2 linked regions of the Homo sapiens genome follow. The protein of the gene in region 2 binds, or shares a complex with, the protein of the main gene of each other region. Each region holds a gene or a part of one and is shown on either strand. Other genes may lie near its edges. A codon is read from its position in the direction of its gene.

The links. Proteins that work in one complex are often made in the same cells at the same time.
Region 1: the proteins of RMC1 (region 2) and CCZ1B are in contact, whole or in part, in a cryo-EM structure (PDB 9L0D), measured with the Homo sapiens proteins. Residues at the interface, in NP_037458.3 of Homo sapiens: Arg403, Ala404, Ser405, Leu406, Pro407, Lys477, Phe478, Ala481, Met484, Glu485, Ile487, Arg488, Asn491, Gln492, Tyr516, Met517, His519, Gln520, Phe521, Gln523, Tyr524, His525, Val526, Ser528, Tyr544, Pro546, Gln549, Leu552, Asp553, Lys556; in NP_932765.1 of Homo sapiens: Phe195, Phe196, Pro197, Leu198, Lys200, Met201, Tyr203, Leu204, Lys205, Gln207, Ser208, Asn211, Arg212, Glu214, Glu215, Val220, Lys221, Leu231, Ile232, Trp233, Ser234 (codon at 1,432), Leu236 (codon at 1,438), Glu237 (codon at 1,441), Gln238 (codon at 1,444), Met384, Asn385, Asp426, Asp445, Arg446, Arg447.

Annotation. Positions count from the first base shown.
Region 1 is NC_000007.14:6,809,253-6,816,275, reverse strand, and holds part of CCZ1B (vacuolar fusion protein CCZ1 homolog B), read left to right. Parts: intron 1-1,430; coding exon 1,431-1,512; intron 1,513-3,238; coding exon 3,239-3,300; intron 3,301-4,212; coding exon 4,213-4,324; intron 4,325-7,023.
Region 2 is NC_000018.10:23,513,504-23,520,526, reverse strand, and holds part of RMC1 (regulator of MON1-CCZ1 complex), read right to left. Parts: intron 4,672-7,023; coding exon 4,531-4,671; intron 4,208-4,530; coding exon 4,104-4,207; intron 1,638-4,103; coding exon 1,548-1,637; intron 1,459-1,547; coding exon 1,353-1,458; intron 326-1,352; coding exon 214-325; intron 1-213. UniProt on the Homo sapiens protein: Component of the CCZ1-MON1 RAB7A guanine exchange factor (GEF). Acts as a positive regulator of CCZ1-MON1A/B function necessary for endosomal/autophagic flux and efficient RAB7A localization.

The DNA of each region.
Region 1 (7,023 bases), on a different chromosome or scaffold from region 2:
ATCCCTGACCTTAGGTGATCTGCTCACCTTGGCTTCCCCAAGTGCTGGGATTACAGGTGTGAGCTTCCGCGCCCGACCACCTTCACGGTATTTCAGTGATCTTGAATAGAAAACGCCCAGATCCAGCCTCATTGTCTGTCTCCTTTTAAAAAACCGGTTCCAGAGTCTGATACCTGCTAGTTTCTCTGTGCTTTTTCCATGTGCTGCTCCTTCCTGCCTCATTTCAGATCAGATGGTTTGCCTGAAAGCTTGTTTTTCTCTTCCTCCTCTTTCTTCACCGAAGATCCGGAGAATTAAAATCCATGTACATTTCTGAGACCTAGGATCACGTTCCCTGTCTACAGCATACCCATATTTTCCCAGGGGACTAGGGGAGAGAATGTGGCATTACCATATAACCCAGGAAGCTAAGAGACATCTGCTCCTAAAATGAAACAGTGTGGCTTTGGAGGTTTCCTGCATAATCCTACACGGAATTCAACCAGCGAGTCCAATCCCTTGTGACTTTTTTTTTCATCTCAAATGGCATGTAAAATACAGGACTGTAGGAGTAGCCTTTTGCAGGTCAGGATAAAGTTCCAGTGCCTGGGCTGAAGTTTAACTCTTTACCTTCCTTAACTTCGCGGTCAGGTGGTGAGCCTCTTGATATAATGTTAAAGAAAAAAGCACCAGTTGTCCCAGCTACTCAGGAGGCTGAGGTGGGAGGTTTGCTTGAGCCTGGGAATCGGTGGCTGCAGCAAGCTGTGGTCACACCACTGTAATCCAGCCTGGGCGACAGACGAGACTCATCTCTTGAAAAATGAAAAAAGATGAGACCAGGCACAGTGGCTCACATATGTAATCCCAGCACTTTAGGAGGCTGAGGCGGGAGCACTGCTTGAGTCCAGGAGTTCGAAACCAGCCTGGCAACGTAGCAAGACCCCCATCTCTACATAAAATACAAAAATTAGCTGATGGTGGCGCATGCCTGTAGTCCCAGCTAGTCTGGAGGCTGAGATGGGAGGACCGCTTGAGCCCTGGAGGCCAAGGCTGCAGTGAGCCATGATCGCACCACTGCTTCCAGCCTGGGTGACAGAGCAAGACCTTGTCTCAAAAAAAAAAAAGAAAAAAAAATTTTTTTTTAATAAAAAATGAGCTTTATCCAGGGCTTCAAATTCTTTGGAAAAGTTTGACAAAGTATACCACGTAAATTCAGATTTACCTCAATGCTAAGAATTATGTTTAGGAAAAAGGAAACTCATTTTGATCTCAGGTAGAAAAATAGATTGCTTTGAGTTTTAAGTAGCTTTAAACTTTAAAAAGTTAGAATTTATTCTGTGTTACTAAAAATGACTTGAAAAAAAAATTTTTGTTTAATGAGCTTTATCACAGCAGTGGAAAGACAGAAGACAGTTCGAAACGTTTAACCCAGTGCTTTTCTGTTGTTGCAGGAGTGGATTAGAACAAGATGACATGAGAATTTTATACAAATACCTTACCACCTCCCTTTTCCCAAGGCACATCGAACCTGAGGTATGATGGGTACCATAGCTGCACACAATTACATGCAGGGGCACAGAGAGGGCAGGTGGAGTGAGATGGTGGTGCATGGGGGTGTTTCTGATCGTTTCTGATGTATGTTTTGTCTTAGTGTGTTATTTATGTCACTGTATATCAATTAGCACAGAAAACCACATGCAGCTCTCCTCCAGTATGTGACATTCAGATGTGATACAGAAAGCATCGTTTTGTGTGTCTGTGTGTTGGTTTTTTTGTGTGTGTTTTTGTTTGTTTGGTTTTTGAGACGGAGTCTCGAACTTTCACCTGGGATGGAGAGGTTCAAGCAATTCTCCTTGCCTCGGCCTCCCTAGTACCTGGGATTACAGGCGCCCGCCACCACGCCCAGCTAATTTTTTTGTATTTTTAGTAGAGACAGGTTTCACTATGTTGGCCAGGCTGGTCTCGAACTCCTGACCTTGTGATCTGCCCACCTTGGCCTCCCAAAGTGCTAGGATTACAGGCGTGAGCCACTGCCCCCAGTCCACAAAGCATGTTTTTAAGAGGAGTGAGTCATTGAGTAGAGGAAAATTGGATTTTATTTTACTTTTAATTTATGTATTTTATTTTATTTATTTATTTATTTATTTATTGGGACAGAGTTTCGTTCTTTTCGCCCAGGCTGGAGTGCAGTGGTTTAATCTCAGCTCACTGCAACTTCCGCTTCCTGGATTCAAACAATTCTCCGGCCTCAGGCTCCCAAGTAGCTGAGATTATAGGCACCTGCCACCATGCCTGGCTAATTTTTATATTTTTAGTAGAGATGGAGTTTCACCATGTTGGCCAGGCTGGTCTCGAACTCCTGACCTCAGGTGATTGACCTGCGTCAGCTTCCCAAAGTGCTGGGATTACAGGCGTGAGCTACTGCTCCTGGCCAAAAAAATTGGATTTTAGGTTGGGTTCTAGAAACCTTTAAAATGCCAGTGATCTTTAAAACAATCAACCTGTGTAGTATTTTCCTCTATCAACAGGAGACCTAATTTTCAGTAGATGTTTTAGTGCCTACCTGGCTTTCCACTCTAGTACTTAATTTCCTGGTTTCCTGCAGAGAACTTTTAAATGATATCACTGTGTTCTCCCCAAAGTATTTTCAGAGCTTAACACACAAAAATCATTTTGGCTCAGTTGAACTCACTCTCTTCGCTTGTTCATTCCCTCCCTCTTGTCCTCCCGCTCTCCAATATTTTTTTTAAGAGATGAGGTCTCACTTTGTTGACTCGGATGGTCTCAAACTCTTGGGCTCAAGCGGTCCTGTCACCTCAGCCTCCCAAGTAGCTGAGACTACAGGTGTGTGCCACCACACCTGGTTAATTTTTTGTAGAGATGGGATCTCGTCATGTTGCCCAGGCTGTTCTCAAACTCCTGGGCTCAAGTAATCTGCCTGCCTTGGCCTCCCAAAGTGCTGGGATTATAGGCGTGAGCCACCTCACCTGGCCAAAAATTTAAAAACTAGCCAGGTTTGGTCACACATGCCTCTATCAGGAGGCTGAGGTGGGAGGGTTGCTTGAGCCTAGGAGTTCAAGGCTATAGTGAGCCATGATCATGCTGCATGCATTCCAGCCTGGGCAACAGAACAAGATCCTGTCTCTAAAAGAAAAAGACAAATGGCATGGAACCAATTAGTAGATAATGCTGTTTTTCAAAGCTTGGAAAATAAATAAAAAGTCTGATAAGTCATTCTCAACATTAAATGTATTTGCAGTTAGCAGGAAGGGATTCTCCAATAAGAGCAGAAATGCCAGGAAATCTTCAACACTATGGAAGGTAGGACTTCTGTTCTTTGATTTATGATACTGGGTTTTCTTTCTTTTTTGACTCAGAGTCTGGCTCTGTTACCCAGGCTGGAGAGCAGTGGCAAGATCTCCGCTCACTGCAACCTCTGCCTCCCCGGGCTCAAGTGATTCTCATGCCTCAGCCTCCCAAGTAGCTGGAACTACAGGCATGAGCCACTATGCCTGGCTAATTCATTTTGTATTTTTAGTAGAAACAGGGTTTCATCATGTTGGCCAGGCTGGTCTTGAACTCCTGACTTCAAGTGATCCACCTGCCTTGGCCTCCCAAAGTGCTGGGATTACAGGTGTGATCCACCATGCCTGGCCTATTATCTTTTTGGTAAAGATAATATGGACATTGAAATATCTTTGTGCCATCTGATTGACAGTAATCAACAAAGGAAAGTTTGTTGTTTCCAATGAGTTAAAACTTACTTCAGCATACCCTTTTTTTTTTTTTTTTTTTTTTTTTGAGATGGAGTGTCTCTCTGTCGCTCAGGCTGGAGTGTGGAGTACAGTGGCACGATCTCAGCTCACTGCAGCCTCCATCTCCTGGGTTCAAGCAATTCCCCTGCCTCAGCCTCTCTAGTAGCTGGGATTGCAGGTGCCCACCACCAGAACCAGCTAATTTTTGTAGTTTTAGTAGAGATGAGGTTTTGCCATGTTGGCCAGGCTGCCCTTGAACTCCTGACTTCAGGTGATCCACCCAGCTCAGCCTCCCAAAGTGCTGGGATTACAGGCATGAGCCACCACGCCCAGCCGGCCTATTCTGATATGGTGTTTGCCAAATAGCAGCTGGCATCAAAAGCAACTGGTGTGTATGAAGTGGGAGTGTGTTCTGTTTCTAGATTCCTGATTCTCCTTCACCTCGTTGAATCAAGTCATGTCTGTTCTTGCTTTTAAGATTTCTTACCGGACCCTTGAACCTCAATGATCCAGATGCAAAATGCAGATTCCCCAAAATTTTTGTAAATACAGATGACACTTATGAAGAGCTCCATTTAATCGTTTATAAGGTAACAACTGTTTTCCTTCCAGCGTTAATGATTGTGCTGAAATGGATCTTTCTTGCATGTGTACACGAGTGCATGTGCAAACCTCTTAAATGTTTCTTGGAAAAGATATTGGAAGTTCTGATTATGGTAAAACTCAAAATGGGTGTTCTTCCAGCGTAATAAGTTTATTTTCAGCTCCTTTTAAACAGTTCTGTTATTAGTGAAAGAGGAACTGTTTAAGATTGTGATTTATAAACGTGTGAAGTCTCACGTGCTCTCAAACCAAAGGCTGTCAGAGGTTGGTGCTGCCTGTTCTCGAAATGGCTCTGGATGGGGGCCGTAGCCACGTGTCTGTGCATATGCTGCTTTTGCTCTGATTTTAAAGCTGTAGGCTTGCTAATTCCATAAGGATCGTATTTTGTTTCTGTCAGGACATGGTCTTGTAAGGATATGTACTCAGGTTGTGTTTCTAATTAAAGGCAGTTTTTGATTCAAGAAAGAAGACGGAGCATGTGCACGTGTTTATCCTCTTTCCTGCCTGAGGCTGTGGAGAAGTTTTCATTTATAAAGGCTCAGAAATGATGCCGTGGGGGAACAGGAAGGAGCGGGATGTGTCAGGATGAGGGAGTCCTGTCCCTCTCTGGAAGGTAGACGGGACTTGTAAACCATGCCTGATAGAGGGCGGTGCCGGAGCAGGCCTGGAATATGAGTGGCAACCCTGTGCTAAGGCAAGGACCCACAGCCCTGTGGAAGCCCAGAGAGGCTCCTGACTTGGAGGAGGTCACCTGAGGAGTCAGAGTGGGGCCTGGGCCTGGAAAGGTGGGGAAGGGAAGTGAAGTGTGGCAGAGAGGCCAGTCAGCCTCCCCTTCCCCCATCCTTGCACAGACAGGCCCACGGCTGAGCATCCATCCCTGGGTGACAATCGAGGGTCTGTTTAAAGAAAGGAAACAGTCTGAAGAGACCCAGAGTGGCTAACGTGGATGTCTGCCCCTGAGAATGAGGCCCTGCTCATTCTGGCATTTCTTTCTTCCAGACAGAACTGAGACCTTCATCCTACACTCAGAGTGAAGCCTCCATCTCTGGTCAGCCTTCTGGTTCCCTCATTGTTAAATATGGCTGCAAAAACAAAACTAGAGGTCTCGAAAGAAACATGATTCCGAGGACAGACGAGAACTTTAAAAATTAGTATCCACTAATTAGAAGAGTTGTATCTATTAATATAAAATTGAAATGGGCCAGGTGCAGTCCCAGCACTTTGGGAGGCCAAGGTGGGAGGATCACTTGAGGCCAGGAGTTGGAGGCCAGCCTGGGCAACATAGTAAGACCCTGTGTCGACAGGAAAATGTTTAAAAATTAGCCAGGCATGGCAGTGCTCATGTGTAGTCCCAGCTACTCAGGAGGCTGAGGCAGGAGAACCGCTTGAGCCCAAGAGTTGGAGGATGTAATGAGCTATGATCACACCACTGCATTCTAGCCTGGGTGACAGAGTGAAACCCTCTCAAAAATAATGAAACTGGTATCAACAGTTTCATATCCAGCACCAGACATTATGTGACAGTGGAAGAGAGACTTTCAAAGTTCTGAGAGAAAATGAATTTGAGCATAGAGTTCTTTGCCATGCCAAGCTGTCAACCACAGATAAGACAAAAGAAAGACATTAGCCGGGGCATGGTGGCTCACGCCTATAATCCCAGCACTTTGGGAGGCCAAGGTGGGCGGATCACCTGAGGTCTGGAGTTCGAGACCAGCCTGGCCAACATGGGGAAACCCTGTCTCTACTAAAAATACAAAAAATCAGCCAGGTGAGGTGGCGCACGCCTCTAATCCCAGCTACTCCGGAGGCTGAGGCAGGAGAATCACTTGTACCCGCGAGGCGGAGGTTGCAGTGAGCTGAGCTTACGCCACTGTGCTCCAGTCTGGGCAACAGAGCAAGACTCTGTCTCAGAAAGAAAAAAAAAAACACGTTCAACATGAAAAGCCTCAAAAAGTTTACCGTCATGCACCCTTCCTGAGGGTGTTACACAGGGTCATCCGTCAGCAGAATAAGTGAGCACACCAAGAAGGAACACTTGGGAATCCAGAACAGTAGTTCTCATGTGTGAGACGGTACAAGGAAATCTTGGGGTGATAAGGCTCTTCAGGTCTGCTGGCGGCACCCCACCTCCAGCAGCTCCGTGACAGCAGGAGGAGGGAGGGCTCTAGGGTTCAAGCCGCCAAGATAAAAAGATGTTTCATTCATCACATGGTGTGCTTGAGAGTCACTTAAAGTTGGGCTGTGACAGACTGGCAGGGAAGGGGAGATTGCAGGCAGAGCATACAGAAAGATGTGGTCTGAAAAAGCAAACCAAAATGTTGGAGGTGTAATTCAGAGCAGGAATTGGAGTAGGAAGAATGTCCGTTTGTGTATCGAGTGAAAGTTTGAGACCCCATCTCAAGAAAAAAATCATCCTCCTTTGAATGACCCAGGTAATGACTGAAATCTCCATAACCCTGGTGTGTAATATGCTGTCGGCTGCATTTCTATTTTTAGAGTCAATCTACAGACATATTGTGGGGTGTGATGATGGGGTTGTGGCTATGTTAAAGGGTCCTTACCTTTTTCTTAATGACTTTGAGATACAATGCACGTACCATACAACTCACCCTCCTACACTTAAAATGTACAGTTCAGTGATTTCTAGTTGCAAAGTTCATGAGTCTCCAAGACCATCCTCACTTCT
Region 2 (7,023 bases):
GATCACGACACTACCTACCAGCCTGGGTGACTCAGTGAGACTGTCTCAAAACAACAACAAAACTGGAACAAATGGCCCCTGGCAAAATCAGACAGATCTGGGAATCTCTGTTTATTCCTCACTCCACTTTTAACGTGACTCCCAAAGATCATGGTGAGAACACAGCCACATGGTGAAAGGGCAGCACAGACTCCTCTACAGAACCCGTGTTACCTGTGATGGGGATCTGATAGGGCTGGATCGATCGAGCGGGAAGCACGGGGTGGTGGAAGGTAACGGAGCCGTCAAACTCTCCCCGTAACTTGATATCGAATATTACCGATGTCTGGGGGGGAAAAAGACAAGACTGAGGCCAAAATCAATCATGGTTTGCCCAGTTGCTTTCATTCCATCCCATCTTGCTGTTTAAATCAGTTTAAAAGCCTGTGTTTGCATTTCCTCCCTACAGGCTAGCTCTTACTTGAGAAGGAATTTGTCATTAACATCACAACTCTCTTTTAATATTTTTATCTCCTCTCACAAGTATTTCCTGCATTTATGACATGCTTCCTTTGATGAGCTCACTCAAAGTGACCTAAGCAGATCTCTGTCATTTCAACTGGAAACATCCTCACGTGTCACAGAGTTAGCGTCACCACCCTCTGGGAGGGTAGAGGAGGTAAGCAGCTTCTTTATATCAGAGGCCCAGCCCACAGGACCCATTCTAGTTGTCCTGGTCCACACGGCCTCAAAACCATTATCCCCCAGCACTGTCATCCATGCTCACAATTGCAACAGAGAGTTCAAGTACTCGTGGAATGGAGCGGATTCCCACCTTCTTCCAAGGTCAAATCTCAAGCGTTAGTTTCTGAAATAGTTTTGAATTATCTTTAATCAACTGACACAATCACTTTTTTCTAAACTACTTGAGACTACCAAACCCATTTCCATCTGGAAGACCAAAACTCTTAGCATAAAAATGCACTTTCTAGTCTTATTCAGACATTTTGCCAATTTTTTTTTTTTTTCGGAGACAGGATCTTGCTCCATCACCCAGGCTGGAGTGCAGTGGCGCGATCTCCACTCACTGAAGCCCCGACCTCCTGGGCTCAAGCCATCCTCCAGCCTTAGCCCCACAAGTAGCTGGGACTATAGGCGTGCACTACCACGCCCGGCTAATTTTTGTATTTTTTATATAGGTGGGGTTTTGCCATGCTGCTCAGGCTGGTCTCGAACTCCTGGGCTCAAGCAATCTGTCCGCCTTGGCCTCCCAAAGTGCTGGGATTACAGGCGTGATCCACCGTGCCCAGCCACCAATTTTCACAAGGCTTTTAAGCAACCTTAACTTTGGTAGAAACGCAGACAGCTTGTACCTCTGTATCCTGATGATGCACGACTACCAGGTTGTCCACCACGTTCAGGGCAAACTTTCCCGTCCTATTTAACTTCAATATGTGCATCTTTTTACAGGCACCTTCTCTGTAGGATAGAAAGCAAAAAACAGATCAACAAGCTGCAGTTCACATTTTAAAATCAGAGAGAGAGGGAAAACAAAGCATGAAATCTACCGTGGTAGATGATAGAGGACCACCTCCGCTCCTGTGCTGTTGGAGGTCCGAGAATGATGCCTCAAGAAGAGAACATACAGCTGCCCGTATCTAATTAGGGAACAAACAGACATAAATCACATCTGGCCATTCAAAATTCCTTTGTTCTAAATGGCATCACGGTTAAGTAAATTATAAGATATTCACTTAATGGAGTATTTTGCTGCCAACAAGTGTTTACAAAGAAACATGCAGTTACTCAAAGCCTATTATAAAGTTAAGTGGAAAAGAGAACACACACTAAACACAGCTTGATCATAATATTTTAAAAGAAAACCCCAAACCTAAGCATAGAGTCTAAAATGATTGGAAAGAAACACATGTAATAGTTATACTTGAGTGATATGCTAAGTTCATTTTCTTCTCTGTTTTCCAAGTTTTGTATAATGAATGTATATTCCTTAATAACAGGAAAATATAATCACTATTTTTTTTTTTCATTTTTCAGAGACAGGGTCTCCCTCTGTCACCCAGGCTGGAATGCAGTGGTGCAACCACAGCTCACTGCAACCTCCACCTCCTAGGCTTTGGCGATCTTCCCTCACCTCAGCCTCCCCAGTAGCTAGGACTACATGCACGTGCCACCGTGCCTGGCTAATTTTTAAATTTTTTTGTAGAAACAGGGTCTCACTATGTTGCCCGGGCTGGTCTTGAACTCCTGGCCTCAAGGCGATCCCCCTGCCTTGGCCTCCCCAGTCACTGGTATTACAGGTGTGTGCCACCATGCTCAGCCTTTTCTATTTAAGTGCCATCTAATAAATGTTGCTGTGAACAGTTCCTGAATGCATATTCTAGTCCAGTGGTAAACTCTGTGCTGGGCCTGCCCAGGGACAAGGAGGAGACCAAGGTGGGAGGGAACAGGTCCCCACCTCCACTTCAGCCAGGACTGCTCTCACTTTATCTATTGTCTAAACAGGAATGCTGGCTGGGCACGGCGGCTCATGCCTATAAACCCAGCACTTTGGGAGGATGAGGCGGGAGGATCACCCGAGCCCAGGAGTTCAAGACCAGCCTGGGCAACATGGTGAAACTCCATCTCTTCAGAAAATACAAAAATTATCCAGATGTGGTGGCATGCGCCTGTAGTCCCAGCTACTTGGGAGACTGTGGCAGGAAAATCACTTGAACCTAGAAGGCGGAGGTTGTGGTGAGCTGAGATTGTAACACTGCACTCCAGCCTGGGCAACAGAGCGACACTCTCCAAAAAAAATTTAAAAATAAACAGGAATGCCACAGAAGAGTACGTTTAAAAAAAAAGGAAGAAGAAATGAAAGAACATTATACTAACTACCATAAAGTTTGAAAGTTTGGGCCACTGTTTTAGGCCACAGAAGAATCAGAAGTAACTTAGAAGCAAAATTTTGACTATTGTCGAATCAGATACAGGCATACAGGGGTTCTTTTTTATTAGTCTCTATTGTGTGTTTAAAATTTTCATTACAAATTTAAAAACTGAGATATCCACTTTTTCAAATGAAAATATACCTCCGTACTGCCAGGCGTGGTGGCTCACGCCTGTAATCCCAACACTTTGGGAGGCTGAGGAGGGCAGATCAAGAGGTCAAGAGACCGAGACCACCCTGGCCAACATGGTGAAACCCTGTCTCTACTAAAAATACAAAAATTAGTTGGGCATGGTGGCACGCACCTGTAGTCCCAGCTACTCGGGAGGCTGAGGCAGGAGAATCGCTTGAACCTGGGAGGCGGAGGTTGCAGTGAGCCAAGATCGTGCCACTGTACTCCAGCCTGGCAACAGAGCAAGACTCCATCACAAAAACAAACAAAAAAAAAAAGTAAAAGAAAATATACCTCTATATATACGTAATTTAGTTCCATGTCTGTTACATAAAATCTTAATCTATTTTCTTATTTAGAACAATTATTATTTAACTGAGCTTTTAAAAAAAATAAACTTGGCCAGGCACAGTGGCTCATGCCTGTAATCCCAGCACTTTGGGAAGCCAAGGCAGGTGGATCACTTGAGGTCAGGAGTTCGAGACCAGCCTGGCCAACATGGTGAAGCCCTGTCTCTACCAAAAATACAAAGACTAGCCGGGCGAGGTGACGCACACTTGTAATCCCAGCTACTTGGGAGGCTGAAGCAGAAGAATCGTTTGAGCCTGGGAGGTGGAGGCTGCAGTGAGCCGACACTGCACCACTGCACTCCAGCCTAGGGGACAGAACAAGACTCTGTCTCGAAAAAAAAAAAAAAAGAAGAAGAAATTCTAAAACAAAGATACTAAGAAATAAATTGGTTCAATGTTCTTGTTTTATCAGGCTAGAAAGGTAAAGGAATTCCTTAGCATCACAAAGCTGATAAAAATCAAAAAGGAATGCCAAAAACACTGCAGGTTTTCTATGTTCACAGGACCTATACACTGAATACCCAGAACAAGGGGAGTCCTCCTTATGTGTTCTAGGGGTCAGGGCATCACGTGGTGCTTGTAACACACTCCTTCTATTATTTATATTACTGAAAGCAATCACAGGATGGAATTCTCTCTGACACGGACATACATGGTAGCCATTGCGATGTCTCTTTCGGAAAGGCTGGGTTTAGTTGACTTAGGCGCAGCTGGTAATTCAATCTCAAATTTGGGCAGCTTCGACATAGTGCCAGCCTGTTTAGGGGGAAAATGTTTTAGGAAAAGCTTATTAAACCCCTTCAATGTTTCATCATTCCCTGTGTAAAACCAACAAGGATAAACACAGACTTCGTCTTTGGATCCTTTCCACCGTCCCCCATGTCCTCTCACAGCCTGTCTGCCCAGCATAGAATGAATGGCTCCAGGAGCTGACGGGTATACAGAGTGCCCTCTAGTGGTCAGAGCGGTGACGTTACGGCTAGAGGAACCTGTCCCTAACGTGCCTGACACATTAGGATGCTACAGGAACAGGGGACAACTGGGGAAAGGTGTTTTTTTCAGGGGAGGCTTCCTCTTACCCTAAAGTGAAAAGGCTGCAGGACATTCTCCAGGACCGTGGTAGACAGCAAGATCACGGCGCTCTCGGGGCAGTACATGTACCAATTCACATTGAGATTGTGGCTCTTCAAGAGTTTCAGACTCCGTTTCTCTGGTAATACCTGAAGCAGAGTTTAAGAAACAGGATCTTCATTTAAAAAACGGCAAACTAATCCCAGCACTTTGGGAGGCTAAGGTGGGCGGATCACCTGAGGTCAGGAGTTCGAGACCAGCCTGGACAAAATGGTAAAACCCCATCTCTACTAAAAATACAAAAATTAGCCAGGCGTGGTGGCACATGCCTGTAATTCCAGCTACTCAGAAGGCTGAGGCACAAGAATTGCTTGAATGAACCCAGGAGGCAGAGGTTGCAGTGAGTCAAGATTGCACCATCACACTCCAGCGTGAGTGACAGAGCGAGATTCAGTCTCAATTAATAAATAAATCAATAACAGCAAACTGTCAGAAGATCCTTACAGTGCGCTCTGAGAATAAAAAGCAGAAGAAACCCACTAAGTGAAATGAACATTCTCACTTGTACTTATTACAGCTACTACTTAACCAGCCCTATGCTTGGTGCTTTACAGAGCCTCCTAACTCATTTACTCTTTGCCACGACTGAGAGGCAGGCATCACTGGCCCTATTAGCCAGATGAGAAACAAGGCTCCAAGAGTGGATTAGGGAACCTGCCCCTTAACAAAGCAATTATAGCCTGGGTAGGCTGTTTCCCTCCAAAATCCTTATCTGTGCCTCCACATGCCTGGGCATGTGGAGCACATGGATACACCTAAGAGCAATTTACAACAAATTTCTCCTCATCCAGGAAACGGCCAAAAGAAACTGACACCTCCAGGACCCCATGTGTTAACTCGGCCACCTCCCAGACCATGGCAGATCTGCCTTCTGCTTGGCCTCCACCTCGACTCCAGTCTACACTGGGCCTGGGAGGAGCTCCCTTCTTCTAGCAGATGTGTTCATAAGACTCCATACAAATGCAGTACTTTATAATCCAGGCACATTTTCAATGTACCCTAAATATTCCGATATTACAGAACACTGTACAGAGCCCCCAAGACATTAATGCTCATGGTACACTGCACTGAAGAACTGCTGCGCAAGTCAGGGGCAGGAGCCGTAAGCTTCTTAAGAACTATAATAATTAGGATGTGCTAGAGTCTTCTTTCTTTTTAACTTTTTTCTTGAAGATCTGAAGCCATCTAGGTAACCTTAAGGTATACTTTCCCACTGCAGAGAACAGAAAGACAGACTTTTAAATGATTACCATAGGGAACTCCCCCAGAAAGCAAGCCATCCTTCCCATGCAATCACATGTACAAAATTCTATTTCTGTGTGTATGGAATTTGTCTAAAGTTTGTTTAAAGTTCTCCTATTGGTCATTACAAATTTTTTTTTTTTTTGAGACGGAGTTTCACTCTTGTTGCCCAGGCTGGAGTGCAGTGGCACAATCTCGGCTCACCGCAACCTCCACCTCCCACGTTCAAGGGATTCTTCTGCCTCAGCCTCCCAAGTAACTGGGATTATAGGCGCCCACCACCACACCCAGCTAATTTTTGTATTTTTATTTTGAGACAGTAGAGACGGCACTTAGTAAAGATGGAGTTTAATAGAGACGGGGTTTCGCCATGGCGGCCAGGCTGGTCTCGAACTCCTGACCTCAGATGATCGCCCACCTCGGCCTCCCAAAGTGCTAGGATTACAGGCATGAGCCACCGTGCCCAGCCAGTCATTACTAAGATTTCGATGATGGCCTTACAGCAAAGCACCATGGCATTAACACACAGGTGTATTTTCTCTAACCATACATTCTAAATTATATGACTTTCATTAGGTCAACAAAATTAAAACCTGAAAGAACTCTTAACACCCTCTAAATTAGTTCCCCTTAGAGATCTCAGAAGCATGCTTAATAGGTCAGGAAGCTGGAACAGATGAAAAGAAACAGGCAGGTACATCAAAGGACACAATCCACAGAGTGGAAAGGCAACCTCCGGATTCGGAGAAAATACTTGCAAATTGTATCTCTAAGAAGGTGTTAATATCAGAATATATAAAGAACTACAATTCAACAAATAATAGTAATTTGATTTTAAAAATAGGCACAATGACCCGAATTAGTCATTTCTCCAAAGATGATACACAAAGTGGCCAAAACACACACACAAAAGTGCTCAACATCACTAATCAACAAAGAGCGCAAATCAAAACCACAATTAAGATGGCTAGTATCAAAAACAAAACAAAACAAAACAGCAAGTGTTGGTGAGGATATGGAGAAACTGGGACCCTTGTACACTTGGAGGGATTGCAAAATGGTGTAACTGCTATGGAAAACAGTATAGCGGTTCCCTAAAATATTCAGAAACAGAACTACCATCTGCTCCAGCAATCTCACTCTGGGTATAAATCTAAAAGAACTGAAAACGGGATCTTGAAGCGGTATCTGCATACCTG